2 separate regions of the Homo sapiens genome follow, and region 1 is linked to region 2. The links come from fine-mapping of genetic effects on gene expression. Tissue or cell type: whole blood. Region 2 holds a variant in brackets; the other region holds the start of a gene. All regions are shown on one strand. Distances are between the middles of the regions.

Region 1 (8,108 bases), 180 kb after region 2:
TGATTACGACATTTAATATGACTAATTTCATTTCATTGATAGTATAATTTCAGCGGCCATTTCAAGTCTATTACGCCCAAAATGAGAATTCAGGGTCTAAGTTCATATTTATTCAGCATTCCTACCTATTTTTAATAGTTTTGATCAAAGTGGCACTTTTATCCTTAGACATACTTCTACTTCTTCCTTCTTTTTTGCCATGCTTTATGCCATTATCATGAATTCCTCCCTGGGTGGTGGAGCCCTTGCCAGTATCTGCGCTTTTATTGCAGAATCTGCCCCCAAAGTAACCAGAATCCCTTTTCTGCATCTCACAGCATAACCTGTTTGTCCATGATGTAAGAAGGACATCACTTAACACACACACACACAGAGCACACACATACTGGGTCACAGCAAGCTCATGTGCACATGCACACATACTCAGGAAATGTACACTTCAGATCACAGAAGCTCCCTGGCCTAGTTCTCCCAGATGCCATTCAGATGCTGCCTTGGCATGGCATCCTTACTGAACCTCCCTTCCTCCACAGAACACCTACTCATATGTCCTCAACTTCCACCCCAGAAAGGTCATTCCCAGATCTAATCACAGCCCAGATTCTCTTCCTGGCCCTTTCCTGTAACTAATCATCAAAGTTCTGACCCAGGGCACAGTAAAAGCAGCAGACTGGACTCGCTATGAAGGCAGAGATCACATTTTATTCAAAGATGTTTCTGTAACTCCACTCAGCATAACTGGGCCATAATCAGTTTGGAATAAATGACTTTTGGTCTCACTGGATCCTTTACCTTTTAGATCTTGCTCACTTTTCCACATTTATCCCCAATTCAAGGCCTTTCTAGTTAGGAAGAAAGTGTAATTATCTGGCCTCACACATATTATGTCTCAAATATAATCTCTCTCTTCCAAGGGGTTTTGTATATTTTCCAAGGAGACTGGGAGAAGTGATCAATGAATTCTAAATAACCAGCTGTCTCCTTGATTCAGATTTGGAGGCGGCAGCTCCCTGAAGAGCCCCAGATCTCATTTCCACCCAAGCCTCAGCCTCTTTTATTAAGTCATACGCAACCCTGTCCCCACCCTCCAGAAACAGCTATCCTAGGGGTGAGATATAACTCCTACCCTGAACTTTGCCTGTCCACCACGTAAAACAGCTTTGTTTCTTGCTTCATATAAGACTCCAAAAAGTAAATGGGGTCTTATCATGCTCTCATTTCCATTCTCCCTGAACCTGCTCTGCTCCTCTTCACGCTGACATTTTCCTACTAAAGCCAGGCTCAGAGTCAGAGACTTGCTTTCTGAGACTTCTGTTCCCTGGCCCAGGAGTAACAGCCCATGGTTTGCTGAGTGCTCACCATGTAGCAGGGAAAGTTCTAAATGCTTCATGGGTATGATCTCATTTAATCCGCACCTATGAGGTGATTAATATGAAGACCCATATCTCATTTAATCAACACTGAGGTTTACCAGTACAAATACAATATCTTGCCTCAAAAGGCCTTAAACAGTACGGAAATGTGTTATCTAAATTAATTAAAGGTTATAAAGTCAAGTTGGCTCCAGACATGGTACAATGAGGACATCTGGACAGATATAAAAGAGAACTCTGAACCCCTCATATCCTCCTAAACCTTTCTAAGAGGCAGTCCTCTCAAATCCCCAACCAAGCTGCTCTGCATTAAACATTTCAATGACTTAACCTGGAGCAATGGCCTCACACAGGTATGCAGCTTCTTCTCAGCAGCCACCCCCTTCACTGCTCTGAACCCTCCAGGCCCAGAGATCTCAGCATAGCCCCTAGATAGCAGTACAAGGTCTGATTTAAGAGATAACCAAGCATCTTGCTAATTTCCATAGGGAGGAATCTGGGACACATCTATGAGTGGGAATTCTAAGGATGTCTGTCCAAGGAGAACGAAATGTTTGTTAAGATCAGGCTATATCTTTATGGGTGCACTTGCCCAGGATCCGGGACTTAATGTTAGCTGGAGCACCTGAAAGTGACATGTTGGCTATTTGGAGTTTGAAAGTGACAATCTACTATGTTGGCTCTCTGGAGTCTGAACTCAACAGCTGCACATAGGCAATAAGGATTAAGGGGCAGAACTTCCCTGGCACAGTGTTAAGGAATCCAAAAGCTCAGAGAATTAGGAGCATTACATATATATGTCCAGGTTTACGCCTATTGTTATGGTCTAATTATTAATACTGCTCTCTTTGCCGTCTGCTCAGCCAACCCTTAACCACGCCACCCTGGAGGACCCAGAGAACACACCCTTTGCCAGGGCTTTAAGAAATGCGTTGGTGAAGGGAGCATCAGAACCCTGACAAAGCCCTGAGGTAGCTGTCCCCAGCAGCCTGGAGATGACAGCGGGGAATACTAGGATTGGTTGTATTCCCTGATTTCCACGGGAATAATGGTAGTCAGAGTGACAGTGGTAGAGGCCAGTGATAGCACTTAACCATTAAAAGACAATCATTTCTTTTTTTAGTGCTTGATATTTATTGAAAATAATGCCAATGCTTTTTCCAGGTAGTATTGAGGAGCTGGGCTGAGTGCTTGTTTGTTTTGTTTTTAAGTACTATTTGTCCAAATGCACACATCTGTGGGACTGCTGCAATTTTGAAAGAAAAATGACAGCTGTGTAAAACCAGTGCATAGGAAAAAAGAAGTGTCAACAATTTGGCTGCCAGGCACACCGCGCCCCTGCAGCAATCTGGTGGGGCAGGGGAGGACACTCGGAGTAGGTAGAAAACTAACCAGGCTGAACGGCCCCTTCAGGGGTTGGTGAGCTGTCCAAATCAATGTCTGAAAAGGCATAGCCAACTCTGGCATTTTCCAGGTTGGTCCTGATCTCGAAAGGTGGTAGTCTGTAGGTGGGATGTGGTGAGTGGATGTGAAGTGGCAGCATAGTTCTCTGGGAAGATGTAAGCCTGGCAGCAGGGCAGGTGGCAGCAGCAGGGCTACGGGTGGTCTGCGCAGTTTGTAACAGGGGCCTGGCCAATAGCTGGGGTTCAGGACACAGTTCAGATTAGCAGGGGAGGGATCCCGGGGATGGCCAGGGTAGATGACACTTCCAAGCACTTCCGAGTGAGTGAGGCTCCAGCCCCGACCCCAGCAGCAGGTAACTGGAGCGCTATTCCTGGAACAAAGACAAGCACTACGGAGAAATGAAGAGAGAGAGCAGACGGGCGCGGGTAGGTAAGGGGACCGGAGGGCAAGGGGGAGAGCAGTGGCTCCTGGCGGGGTGAGGGCTGCGGGGAGGGGGTGGCGGCGTGCAGGGCCCTCCCCCCCGAGGCCCGAGGGTCGAGGGCCTAATAATCATCCTCCTCTTCTTCGTCGTCGTCGTCTTCGTCGTCATCCCAGCCAAAGCACTGTTTCATCTCATCGAGGAAGGCCCGGTAATCACCTAGGATGGGGCTATCCATCTCGATGTAGGGCACCACCCACTCCTCGGCTTCCCCGGTGAGGAGGCTGATTAGGAATGCCACCTTCATGGCGTCGTTGCAGAATCGGTTCTCGTTCACGAGCATGTAAGACGCCGTCTGCACGATAAACTCGGGGAGCCGGGAGCTCTCGCCATTAAACGTTTCGGGGAAGGGCACCGGGCAGCTCGGCGGACGTACCTGGCGCAGCAGGCTGGCCCTCTCGCACACCAGCAGCCGCAGCTGTTCCATGAGCTGGCTGTTCTCGATGCTCAGGGCGCGGTGCCGCATCAGGAGCGCGTGCAGCAGCAGCACCAACTCATCCACCATTGCGAACGGCCTGGAAGGACAGGACTCGGCTCGGTTCGGCTCGGCCAAGGTGCGCACGGAGCCCTCGCAGGAAGTGCGTGTCCACGGAGGCGCTTGGTGGCCAGGGGCGGGGGGCGGGGGGCGGTGTGCGCCGGGGTCCGGGAGGCTACGCAAGCTCCGCCCACGAGGCCATTCGGACGGACGGTGCGCCGGCGCGACGGGGGAGGGGCGTGGCTAGGCTGGGAGTGGGGGGGCCGCGGCGGCGTGGGGGCGTGGCCGGGATGGGAAGGGTGTAGACAAAGAGGGCGTGGCCAGGAAAAGGATGCGCTGGGTCGCTGAACCACCGGCTTGTGGTAGGTCTCTCGGCGGGCAGTTAAAGGCTGGGATAGGCTCCCCTAGCTCCTAGTTGTGGGGCCTGCGTTAGCAGAGGACTTGGCGAGCGCTGAGTCCGGTCTCAGAGAAGGTAAATTTGTTCAAACTGAAAGGATTAGCCACCCTTCTACCTAGGTAGCTTGCACAACTCAGTGTTCCTTCGTGGGTCTGTGGCCACTAGATTCTCTTGGCTTGATGTTTTATTAACACATTTTCTTTCTTATTTAAATCTCACTCAGAGAAGTATTGACACTGCTGGCTGCCCTGTGGGAGTCACACTTCCTTTTAGAATCATGAAGACCCTCAGGGGGTCCTGCCTTTCATGAAAAAGGTAGTATTTAAACAGTGACTTCTTTAGTAGGGAAATAATATGGTATACACACACACACACACACACACACACACACACACACAAAACCTAAGTAACAAGATATAAAAAAGTTCTGCAAAATCAGCATCCAATAGTCAATTGCAGGCATCCCACATATCTTTGATTCTCTATTTCTTGTCTTGCTATTAGTGCCGTTGGCCACTGGGTATTATTCTGTACTTAAAAATGAACTGTTAAGATGTTTGTGTTTTTAAATAATTTTGTTTTTCTACTTTGAATGGATCCCTGATTCTAGAGCCAACATGAATTGTTGGCTCTGCTTTCAAATATATTGCCAATTCAATCACGTCTTGTCATTTCTGCCACTGCCACCCTGATTCCTAGCCTTTCTTTCTCACCCAGACTGCTGCAACTAATCACTTAGCTTTCACTCTTTTCTTCCTATAGTATATTCTCCATAGAGTAGCCACGGGAATCCTTTAAAACAAAAATTAGGGCCGGGCGCGGTGGCTCACGCCTGTAATCCCAGCACTTTGGGAGGCCGAGGCGGGCGGATCACGAGGTCAGGAGATCGAGACCATCCTGGCTAACAGGGTGAAACCCGTCTCTACTAAAAATACAAAAAATTAGCTGGGCGTGGTGGCGCATGCCCGTAATCCCAGCTACTCGGGAGGCTGAGGCAGGGGAATTGCTTGAACCCTGGAGGCAGAGGTTGCAGTGAGCCGAGATAGCGCCACTGCACTCCAGCCTGGGCTACAGAGCGAGACTCCGTTTCAAAAGAAAAAAAAAAAGATCCCTTCACTCTCCTGCTCAAAATCCTCCAACAGTTTCACCTGAGAATAAAGAGCAAAGTTGCAGCCAAGGCCTACAAGGCCCCTCCTTCTATCCTGTGCCTCTTCCCAGTTTCTGCTGTGCTCTAATCACTGTCCTCCTTGCTGATTCTCACACCCATCAAGCAGTTCTGGCTTCATAGCCTTTGCATCTTCTATTCCTTCTGCCTTGCAAGGCTGTCATCCCAGTTGGCTGCCTGACTCCTCCTACTGCTTTCAGAGAGAACTTTTCTGACCACCGGACCTATCAGAGCACCCTGTTCTCTGCCCCCAATCTGTAACCCTTTACTCTGCTTCATTTATCTACATAACATTTATTGTGCTACCGGCCACCATGTCGTATGTATATACAGTACTTTGCTCATCATCTGCTTCCATTTTAGAATATATAAGTCAAACACTGCTTTTGCTATCTGGTCTATCCCTAATGCCTAGAAAAGTTCTGGCCCAGAGTAGAGGCTTCATTAATGTTTGGCGAGTAAAATCATCCCAGAGTGAAGATGCTGAGATGAAAATCAGAAGTTGTCGCTGCACAAAGAGTCAAAAAATACTCTTCAAATTGTTAAATGTAAGGTTGGGCGTGGTGGCTCATGCCTGTAATCCCAGCACTTTGGGAGGCTGAGGGGGGCAGACCACCTGAGGTCAGGAGTTAAGACCAGGCTGACCAACATGGAGAAACCCTGTCTTTCCAAAAAATACAAAATTAGCCAGGTGTGGTGGTGGGCGCCTGTAATCCCAGCTACTTGGGAGGCTGAGGCAGGAGAATCACTTGAACCTGGGAGGCAGAGGTTGCCTGAGCCGAGATCACGCCATTGTGCTCCAGCCTGGGCAATAAGAGCAAAACACCATCTCAAAAAGAAAAAAAAAAAAGAAAAAAAATTGTTCAGTGTATTTTATCTCTGACCATGGATCAGTCTCGATTGTGAAACAATGACTGATGTAATAAAACTGGCTGAATAGATTTTTAAAGAAATTCGATTCGGTCCTTTAGGATAGAATTGAATGATCATCCATGGAAGTAGGAGGCTGGGAAAGAGCAGAGAAACAGGGCCAAGCCCCAAGCAGGGACACGGGGAAGATCACAGTGGTGAAAGGATAAGCAGTGAAAAAAAGAGATAGGAGGAATGTGAGCTTTTGGCCTCTCCTGTGCTATGAGCTCCGCCACCTGAGAAGTTGGCAGGCAGGGATCCACTCTCACTCTTAATTTTATCTTCAGCACCTGGCAGTGTTTACTAGCTGCTCCGTAAACATTCAGTGTAAGGATTGAGGGGAGGGATGTGAAATGTGGAAAGTAGGTCTCTGGCCATCATGCCCATTTACAGTTCAGAGTACAGGATGGGCCTGACTGGGACAGAGGTAGTGTCCAGCTTCACCTTTCATATCCAGGCCCTAATACAGGAAGAGTACTCAGGGTTCGACTCCTGGGAGCACACTTTCTTTCTTTCTTTTTCTTTTTTTTAGACAGAGTTTTGCTCGTGTTGCCCAGGCTGGAGTGCAATGGCACAATCTCGACTCACTGCAACCTCCGCCTCCCGGGTTCAAGCGATTCTCCTGCTTCAGCCTCCCGAGTAGCTGGGATTACAGGCATGCGCCACCACGCCCAGCTAATTTTATATTTTTAGTAGAGACAGGGTTTTTCCATGTTGGTCAGGCTGGTCTCAAACTCCTGACCTCAGGTGATCCACCCGCCTCGGCCTTCCAAAATGCTGGGATTACAGGCGTGAGCCACCGCGCCCGGCCTAGAGCACACTTTCTGTAGCAGACACTGGGCCAGGTGATTGGCAGGGCTGTCACAATGACTCATACACAAGGACCAGACATGGGAATGGGCATTTTAGAGCCAGAGACCCAGGAGGTAAATATCTAAACCTAATAAAGCAATAGGTTGATGGTGCTATACCTTCATGCCAACCTCTCTAACTCTAAAGCCCGCCCATGCCCTTGCTCTGAATAATTAATATGTGCTGGACCCTTGTGACTTCAGTGGGCCCAGGCAGGTCTAGTGGGGAACCAGAGATGATTAGGCAGATGCTGCCCTAATTTTCTCCCTACAACCCCACAGCAGAGGGATTCAGGGAGGAAACCAGACGAGGCAACCACTATTGTTCCCTCTGAGTGTGCTCTGAGACCCTGGAAGACAGGAAATGTCCTGCCCAGAACTGAGCAGTGACTTTGGGAGGTGCTTCCCTGGTTGGAGAAAGGGAATGGAGACAAGCAGCTTAGCACTGACTCACAACAGAAGCAGTCAGGAAGAGGTATGTAGTATCAGTTGATAGAAGATGTAGAATCTTAATGCTCATTTTAACCAGCTTCCAGGTGCCTGTGAGGCTCTCCCACCAGTGCCAATGCATATCAGCACTTCCTTCTCCATTCACCCTGCTCACAGCTGCATGTCGCCTTCCTCATTTTCTTTCCCCTTCTCGAGTGGCCCTTAAGTGTTCCTTTCCACTTAACGTGAATATGCTGGGGGCAGACACAAGTACTCCCTGTGACAAGTACTCATAGGGAGTACTTGTCTCGGGCCAGTAAAATTTATCAGGACAGCTCTGGGTTGGAACGCCCTAAGGGTGGCTTAGACTCCACCGTTTGGCAAGAGCACAAGTCCAAGGCACTCACTACCACCATGTTTCAGGCTCCAAACCGTGCCCTGGTACACATCAAGCATCCAGACTGTAAAATTCTCTTGAACATGAAAATTTCCCATGATTCTTGAGCCACCAGATGAGTGTGCACACATCGACTGGGTGAACTAACTCAGCACTCAAATATACAGCCAGGAACAGAAACAGCTTCGGAAAGAATATTTGTGAGAGGACTGCATGAATGCTGCCAAGAG
Region 2 (8,108 bases):
TGTGAAAAGGAGGATGACTTCAGCTGCTGTGGATAAAGAAGAAGATGACCCAGAACCATGAAAGAAGTTTATCCCTATGGTAAAAAAGGAAGTTGCTGGAGGCAAGAACAACTTGCCACCGTGGTGAACACTACAGGAATCAGCTGTATCTGAAATACTCACTGCTGCAGATACAAATTACAAACAGGGGGAAAAAAAAAAGGAAGTTATTTATTTCACATCCAGGCTTGCAGTCACCTTCCAGGACCCACGGTTGTCAGAGAAAGACAACAAGGATCCCATTTCAAAGCAGAGATTTAGTTGCAGAGTCCAGAGGAGAATCACAAAATTGGGCCAAGAAGAGTGGGCTTCGGACTATGAAGCAATAAATTACTGGCACACCCATTTCCCAGATTCCACCATTAACATTTTGTTACAGTTATTTTAACACATACCTATCCACTGGCCCATCCCTTTATCCATGCCTCGATTCCCCTTATTTTTGATGGATTTTAGATAGCAATATACTTCCTTCTAAATACTTCAGCATGCATAGTTAAGAATTTGATGTTTGATTTTTTCACTTTTATGTAAAATGGGTGTAAAATTAAATGCATAAATTTACTGATTTTTGCAAAATTCATATTTCTGTATAATCTTAACCCTATCAGCATATAACATATATCCATTGTCCCCAAAAGTTCTTTCATGCCTTTTTCCTAGTCAATCCCCTTCTGTACCTCCTCTACCTACACCCCCCTACCCCTGGGCACAAATGTTCTGATTTTTTTTTTCTGCTATAGATTAATTTTGCCTTTTGTGGAACTCCAAAGAGATGGAATCATAGGGTATGTACTCTTCTGTGTCTGAATTATTTCTCGCAGCATGATTTTGAAATGTATCCATATTGTTGGTCAATATCAATAGTTCATCCTTTTAGTATTCCATTGTATGGATATGACGGCGATTTTTTATTCATTCTCATATTACTAAACACCAGGGCTATTTCCAATTTTTGGCTATTGTGAATAAAGCTACTATAAACATTTTTATGTAATTTTTCTGACTTTTAAAAATGAGGTTAAATCTGTGCGTATGTGCGTGTTTTCTTACAACAACACTTTGTATGTGAGTGGGCATGAAGTGACCTGTATTCTAATGCAGGGACCATTATCCTTATTCTAAAATTTATTTTTTAAAATTATAATTTTTTTCTCTGCTTACCTATTAGGCTAGGAGACAGCAGTTGAACACAATCAATAGCAATTGGCTGAAGCAATGCTCCCCCTCACAACTTGATGTGTCTCCATAGACACTGCCTCATTTTGTTATTACTTCTCACTTGCTTTATTATTTTCCTGTTCAGTGTGTTATTAAATATACAAAACAACTATTGACAGACACAGGCATGGAAACTTTCTTTTTCTATTCCTTATTTTAATACTTCTAACAGTCATTCCCATACAATTATATACAAAATATCGTGGAATCTACTCTTAAAACAATAATTTTCGTATTTTTGTGTGGAAAAATACTTCATAATGACAGTCTTAAAATTTTGATTAGTGTGGTACATGCTCAAGCATTTTTATTTGGCAAACAGTTTAATCAAAATAGGGAAGTTTTGTCCATTTTCATTTCATAGACTGTTGGAAATTAATCAGTGATCTCTCAATAAAATTTTTAAAATATGTGTTAAACGGTGTAGAGAAGAATGAAATGAATTAGCTAACCATCTCCATGGTAACAGAGAATGGAACGGTGGGTGGCGGGAAAGCCTAGTAGTAATGAATGCAATACTATTTCTTAATGTTGGGAATATGATATGATCTATGCTTTTAAATAAAAGTTTATAAAAATTATTTGCATTATTTTTACTTAACATTTCTTTCTCATTTTGTTTCTGACTTGCACTAAATGTGACACAGCTGCATTACAGCATTTGTTTTAGCATATGGGCTAATGACAACTAACTATCAAATGTGTTGACTACCAAGTATTGAATACCAAATATAACATTTAATAACTTCAATAGTTCTCAATTCAGAACACATTGTCTCAGAAAAACAGGATTATAAAGGGGTTTGACTCTGAATCATACTTTAATTTAGATCTGCATAACATTTCACCTGGGCCACATACAACAGTCTTCTGTTTTCTCATTCAGTATTGTCTCCTTCTAAACAGCCTTGTGAGTCTTGTGAGTCAGTCTCGAGCGAAAACACAAATACTAGCTCCTCATTGTGGAAAGTAAGTCCTAGGCCTTTCGCATTTTGGCCCTACCTACTATTGCAGCCCTAACTTCCATCATACCTATGTGCTGCAGGTTTTCTTACTCCTGCCAGTTGAAGATCTTTACTCTTTCAGAAACACATTGCACTGTTTGCCCTCTCTGCCTTTGCATATCCTGCTCCCTGTATCCTAGATGGCTTTGCCTATTCTCTTTTCTGGGCCTTACTTTGGCCTGGATGAAATATTCTTTGTAAAAGGAAAATAAATCTTGGGGGCCCTAAATCACTGAGCTAAAGGGAAAAGCCGAGCTGGGAACTGCTTAGGGTAGACGAACCTCTCACTCTATTCAAAGTCATCCCTCTGACACTCACCTGAGACAAATGCATATCTGATTGCTTCCTCTTCCCTATTGTTTATGAAAAATACAGATTCACTGAGCCAGGCTAAATTGTGTATTCACTGGATGGCTGACAAAGACTCAAAATAATGCAATCTTTTGTCTTTTATCTACTTCTAACCTGGAAACCCCCACTTCGAGTTGTCTGGTCTTACTGGACTAAACCAATGTACATCTTACACATATTGATTGGTGTCTCATGTCTCCCTAAAATGTATAAAAGCAAACTGTACCCATGAGCACACTGGGCACATGTCTCAGTGAAATGGGAGGGTTCTCTCATCTCCCTCTCAAGATGTGCGACAGGCGTGTGGCTCCTCTGGCTGCCATGCATGTTCAAACCCCTCATGGGAAAGGGAACACACAGACAGGCAGGTGCAGAAGCTGGGGCAAGCACTCCTGGGCTCTAGACCCATGGCAGCATCCAGGGGTGGGTGCCTGTGAAGCCCAAAGCCCAAGTGGGTGTATATTACAGTGTGCTCTTTTAGCTTTGCCATCCACGGATGGCTTAAGTGTTAAACAGCTTAATGGACCCTCTGCCTTTTCACAAGGGCAGAAAGCCAGTGTGACAGCTTTCTGTATCCCAAACTCTTGTCCAGCATCCAGGAAAAATCAGGTCTCACATGGATTTGAAGGATGGTGAATGTGGAGGTTTTATTGAGTGGTCAGGGTGGCTCTCAGTGGGACGGATGGGGAGCTGAAAGGGAGACAGAGTCAGAAGATGATCTTTCCCTGGAGATTTGCTGTCCCCAGCTGAACTCCTCTCAATGTTCAGATGCTCCTTCTCTTCTCTCCTTCTCTGCCATTCTTCTGCTCTTCTGTTCCTCTGCTCGTCTGCTCATGGAGCCTAGGCTTTGGGGTTTATATAGGTACAGGATAGGGGGATGTGGTGGGTCCAAAGGCAACTTTTAGTCATGAAAACAGGAATGCCTGTTCCCATTTAGAGCCATGGGTTTCCAGGCTTGAGGGTAGCACTTTTGCTGGGGAACCACCCTCTTCTACCCAGTATTTCCTTGTCTCCTGTCTGTATCATCAGGACTTCCTGAGGCTGCGTCATGGGTGCATCCTTAACCTTGGCAAAATTAATTTTCAAAATTGACTGAGACCTGTCTCAGATATTTGGGGTTCACATTTGGGTAACCACAGAGGGATTCTGAGTGTAGGTGCCCCTGACCTTTCACAAATCTTCTACTGGTACTTGGTACCAGCTTGAGCTATCTTCATGGTTAAAACCAATAGGACAATTTGCTGAGGCCTGAAAGCCACCCCTCCAAAGAATCCCTGATCTCCAAAAATTTGGTTGCAATCTAAACTTTATTTTGCTGCACAACTCCTTTTCTGAAGATTTACCTGCTTTCAACAAGGAAGGCAAGTTCTCCTGCTTCCATCACAATGGAAGGCAGGTAATTCCCTTATGAGTTTGACCTTGCTCCCAGCACGGAAGATGAATCTGAGTTTTTTCCTGCTTCTAGGGTAATAGACAGCAGTCTTCAGCCTGAGACCCATCACTAGGTAAGTAGCTCAATAGGGGTTTTGTCTTGTCTAAAGTTAAGATTAACAACAAGCTGGTCTTAATTTCTCCTTACCATTAGAGTGCTCAGTAATCATATAAATTTTGTGATATTTTGTGTTTTTGCTTAACTTTTTTTTTTTTTTTTTTTTTTTGCCGTTGTTTGTTTCTGTTTTTGTTGTTTTGGTCTTTCTTTCTTCATTGGGAAACTATCCAACTTGATCAAATCTAAAGGAAAGTTCCAAATTATGAGGAACAAGGCCTCTGAAGTGGCTAAATTTCCACAAAAGGTGGGGAGGGCTTGGGAGGAAAAATGCTCAGCAAAAGAAAAAACAATAAAGATTTTTGATTTTGAGTACTTAAGGGGCTTTATGTACATAGCAAGGCCACTTTTTTGCTATCCAGGCCAAATTGAAAGAGCAACGCTGTTGCCCCATGCTGCAGTTTCATAGCTAAGGTTCTGCCTTCTTTTTTTTCCACAACAGCCTGGGTTTGCTTCCTAAATCAAGCCATTTCTGGTTTGATACTTGTTTCTTTTGAAACATCAGCAATTTTTCCTAGCTAAAATATGGTAATGAGATTCAGAAAGATTTTTTTAAAGGAGCTCAAGGGTTAAAAGTCAGCTTAATTAAAAGCTCACATCTGAGATGTGTGTGTGTGTGCATGTGTGCATTTGTATTAAAAGGCCTTTATTTTTTCCTCTGTTAGAAACAGATAATCGGTGTCGTGAAGAAAAGACAAAGGATCTCTCAGCAAGGCAATCTTTACTTTCTGCAGAAAGGGTGCCCCTCGCAGATCGAACAATCGTGACAGCACACTTGAACAAAGGAAAAGCAGACATATTTATCATTTACGTATTTGGGTCAGCCTTACTGCTCTGTCCTGCATCCATTG[G/A]CTGGAGCTGGACCCCACAGTCTTCAACTGATACCAAATCTGCTAATAACCTAAAACTTTCCTAAACAGGTAAGTGCAAGGGAGAACAAAGAAGAAAAAGAAGTTGCTTACTAAAGGTTTAAGGAAGCAATTAACATTTCAAAAAAGGAAGGGGCATAAGCTATGAGCTAAGACTTGCCTGGGCCTGTCCAGACATGCCTGAGTAAGCCAAAGCAACTAACTGGGCTCAAGTGTAAGAACTAGTAGTTGAGAGGAGGCTTTAGAGTAAGGAGCTATTATTTATAGTGTCTATTATTTTATTTTTAAACCAAGATGAATTTTGAAGAAAAACTTTACTACTTTCTACATCTTCTCTCCTAGGACCTTGTCTTTTTTTGAGCAAAAGTTTTTTTTTCTTCTCAGACGATGACATTCTGTTTTCTTCATCTACTTCTGCTGTCTCTCCTTTATTTTGCTACCCTCTGTTGCATGAGGGACGTAAAATAGTTTATAATTGCCTGCATTCCTTAAAGAAAATGGAGAAGATGCCACACTCCCTTTTGGGGAGAAACCTCTATTTTTCCCAAGAGTGTAAACACACAAGTTCATCTCAGATCTTAAGCTGCTTGCTTTTGTATTGTGTTACTTGATTTTTTGACTAAAACTGTTATTAGTTTATTCTTGGATTTTTAAGGAAGAAAGTAGCTTGAACACTTAGAAATGTCTTTGTTAAAAAAAAAAAAAAGGACACTGTAAAAGCATCACTTGGTGTAGCCTCATAGTAATTCTCCCTTTTTGGAGAACTAGGATTCAGTGTGGGCTCTGCCCAGAGCTCAGAGATCCAGTTAAAAGACAGGTAGTCCCTATCTAAATACAACTGGTCTCCTTATACAATCCTATAATATATTTCTACAATTTTGTGTTTGATTTGGCATCCATCTTCAATCTCCTTCTAACATCACCAGACTCTTTCTCTCTGTGCTTTGAGAAGCAAATTTCACTATCTGATTTTTTTTACCTAAGGGTTCCTTTAATATGCACATTTAGGGCTATCTAGCTGACAATTGCCTAGGGCAATAAAATAGGTTATGAAGAAATTGTAAATCTAAAATACAAGGAAAAAATAAAGGCCTTAGGAATTTATAAGATCTACTTCTATCTACATGTCTAATACATCTATGTATTTATGTGTCATGGATATGACATTTCACTACTAAAAATGTAGAAAAGAGCTCTAATTAATTGGCTTAACAAAGGCACTTAAATCTAATGCTTTTCAGAAAAATAGACTTTAAGCCAAATGCTTTTTCAAGTTCATGTGACTTAAGCAAATCTTCAATAAACAAGCTGGTTTTAAAAATTTTAGTGAAATTGAATTAGAAATGGCTTTGGAATTCTCAACATACATTATTTATCTCTGCTAGATGTCAACATTTGGCATAAGGGTTCTAAAGCTATGAATGCAGCTCAAATAAGAATTATCTTTGTTTATGTAAAATTTAGTAAGTAAGGAATTTAATATTGTTTGGTTAATGAAAATAGCTAAATCCTGAGTTATTGCCAAAAAAACAAAAACAAACAAACAAATAAACAAAAAAAGACCCTTTATCTAACCTTAATGTTCTTACTCAGGACAACCTGAAATTCACAGGTTATAAAAATGGTTAACAAGGACATAACTTTAAATGGTAACTATTACAGTTTTCATAAGTAATCTGGGTAAACTATTAGAAAATTAATTAATTACACAAATGTAACAGAATAAGTTCTTGTAGAATATCTTGTCATATAATTTAAAATCCAAAGTTATATTAAGCTAAATAGTAGATATTTATTACACGTCTGGGTCATTTCCAATTTTTTTAATTATAGGAAAACATTTTTCTGTAAAAAAGAAATGTGATCTTAAAGGAAAATACTTTTTGTCTAATTCGAAGCTTATCTAAAAGTTATTTATGAAATTAGGTAATCAGTGAATAAAAACAATGTGAAGGAAGTTATGAACAGGCATTTTTGGCACAAAAAGTTAAAAGGAAAATAATTTTATCTGAGCAAGAATCTTGTATGGTAAATTTTTGTTCTAAAATAAAATAACTGGTTATTTAAGAAAAAGGAAGCCTAGGCATGGTGGCTCATGCTTGTTAATTCCAGCATTTTGGGAGGCCGAGGTGGATGGATCACCTGAGGTCAGGAGGTCGAGACCAGCCTGGCCAACGTGGCAAATCCCTGTCTCTACTAAAAATACAAAAATTAGCCAGGTGTGGTGGCACGTGCCTGTAGTCCCAGCTACTCCGGAGGCTGAGGCAGGAGAATTGCTTGTACATGGGAGGCAGAGGTTGCAGGGAGCCGAGATGGCGCCACTGCACGACTCTAGCCTGGGCGACGGAGGAAGACTGTATCTCAAAGGAATAAAGAAAGAGGAAGGGATAAAACAGAAAGTCCAAGCTGTCATAAATGATTTGTATAAAGTTGTCTATAATTAAAGGGAAATTATTTATAATAGTCTTTCCAGATTTAGCTTATGATATTAAAAAAAACACTAAAAAAATTCATCAGAACAATAAAATTTTCTTAAGGAGTTGATTTACTCTTAATAAATTAAAAGATTTTAATTCTTTAAACCCAAAGTTTAACTTTTATCACATCTCACCATTTTCGGTTTACTCTCCTCTTTTAAAAGGTGAAAATAATAACTCTCTCTTTCAACTCATTTTCAGCTCATATAAGTTTCTTCTTTTTTTCTCTTGTGTTCTGTTTGTTGTGGCCTCATGCTAAAAATGTTTTTTTTTCTATTTCTTTTTTCTTTTCTTGAGGTGGGGTCTCACTCTGTCAGCCAGGCTGAGAGTGCAGTGGCACAATCTTGGCTCACTGCAACCTCCCCCTTCCAGGTTCAAGCAATTCTCCTGCCACCACGCCCGGCTAATTTTTGTATTTGTAGTAGAGACAGGGTTTCACCGTGTTGGCCAGGCTGGTCTCGAACTTCTGACCTCAAGTGATCCACCTGCTTCAGCCTCCCAAAGTGCTAGGATTACAGGCATGAGCCACTATGACAGGCCAAAAATTTTTTCTTCAAGGTCTAAAAAAGTGTTTTCTTCCATCTGTGTAACTTTCTGTATG

What was found. PIP is the estimated chance that this variant, and not a neighbour inherited with it, causes the effect.
Region 1: it holds the start of LDOC1, and the variant in region 2 is fine-mapped to the expression of LDOC1 in whole blood (TOPMed, PIP above 0.99).

What each region holds. Positions count from the first base shown.
Region 1 is chrX:141,173,262-141,181,369 of GRCh38, forward strand. It overlaps LDOC1 (LDOC1 regulator of NFKB signaling), which reads right to left and starts at 3,868. Exons shown (of 1, transcript NM_012317.4): 1 at 1-3,868. The coding sequence starts at 3,760. The coding sequence ends at 3,320. RefSeq lists an enhancer at 2,933-3,432.
Region 2 is chrX:140,992,569-141,000,676 of GRCh38, forward strand. No RefSeq gene overlaps it. Among named protein-coding and RNA genes, the nearest start is that of SPANXB1, 6.0 kb to the right of the region's middle. The variant G/A (reference allele first, on the strand shown) is at 5,013.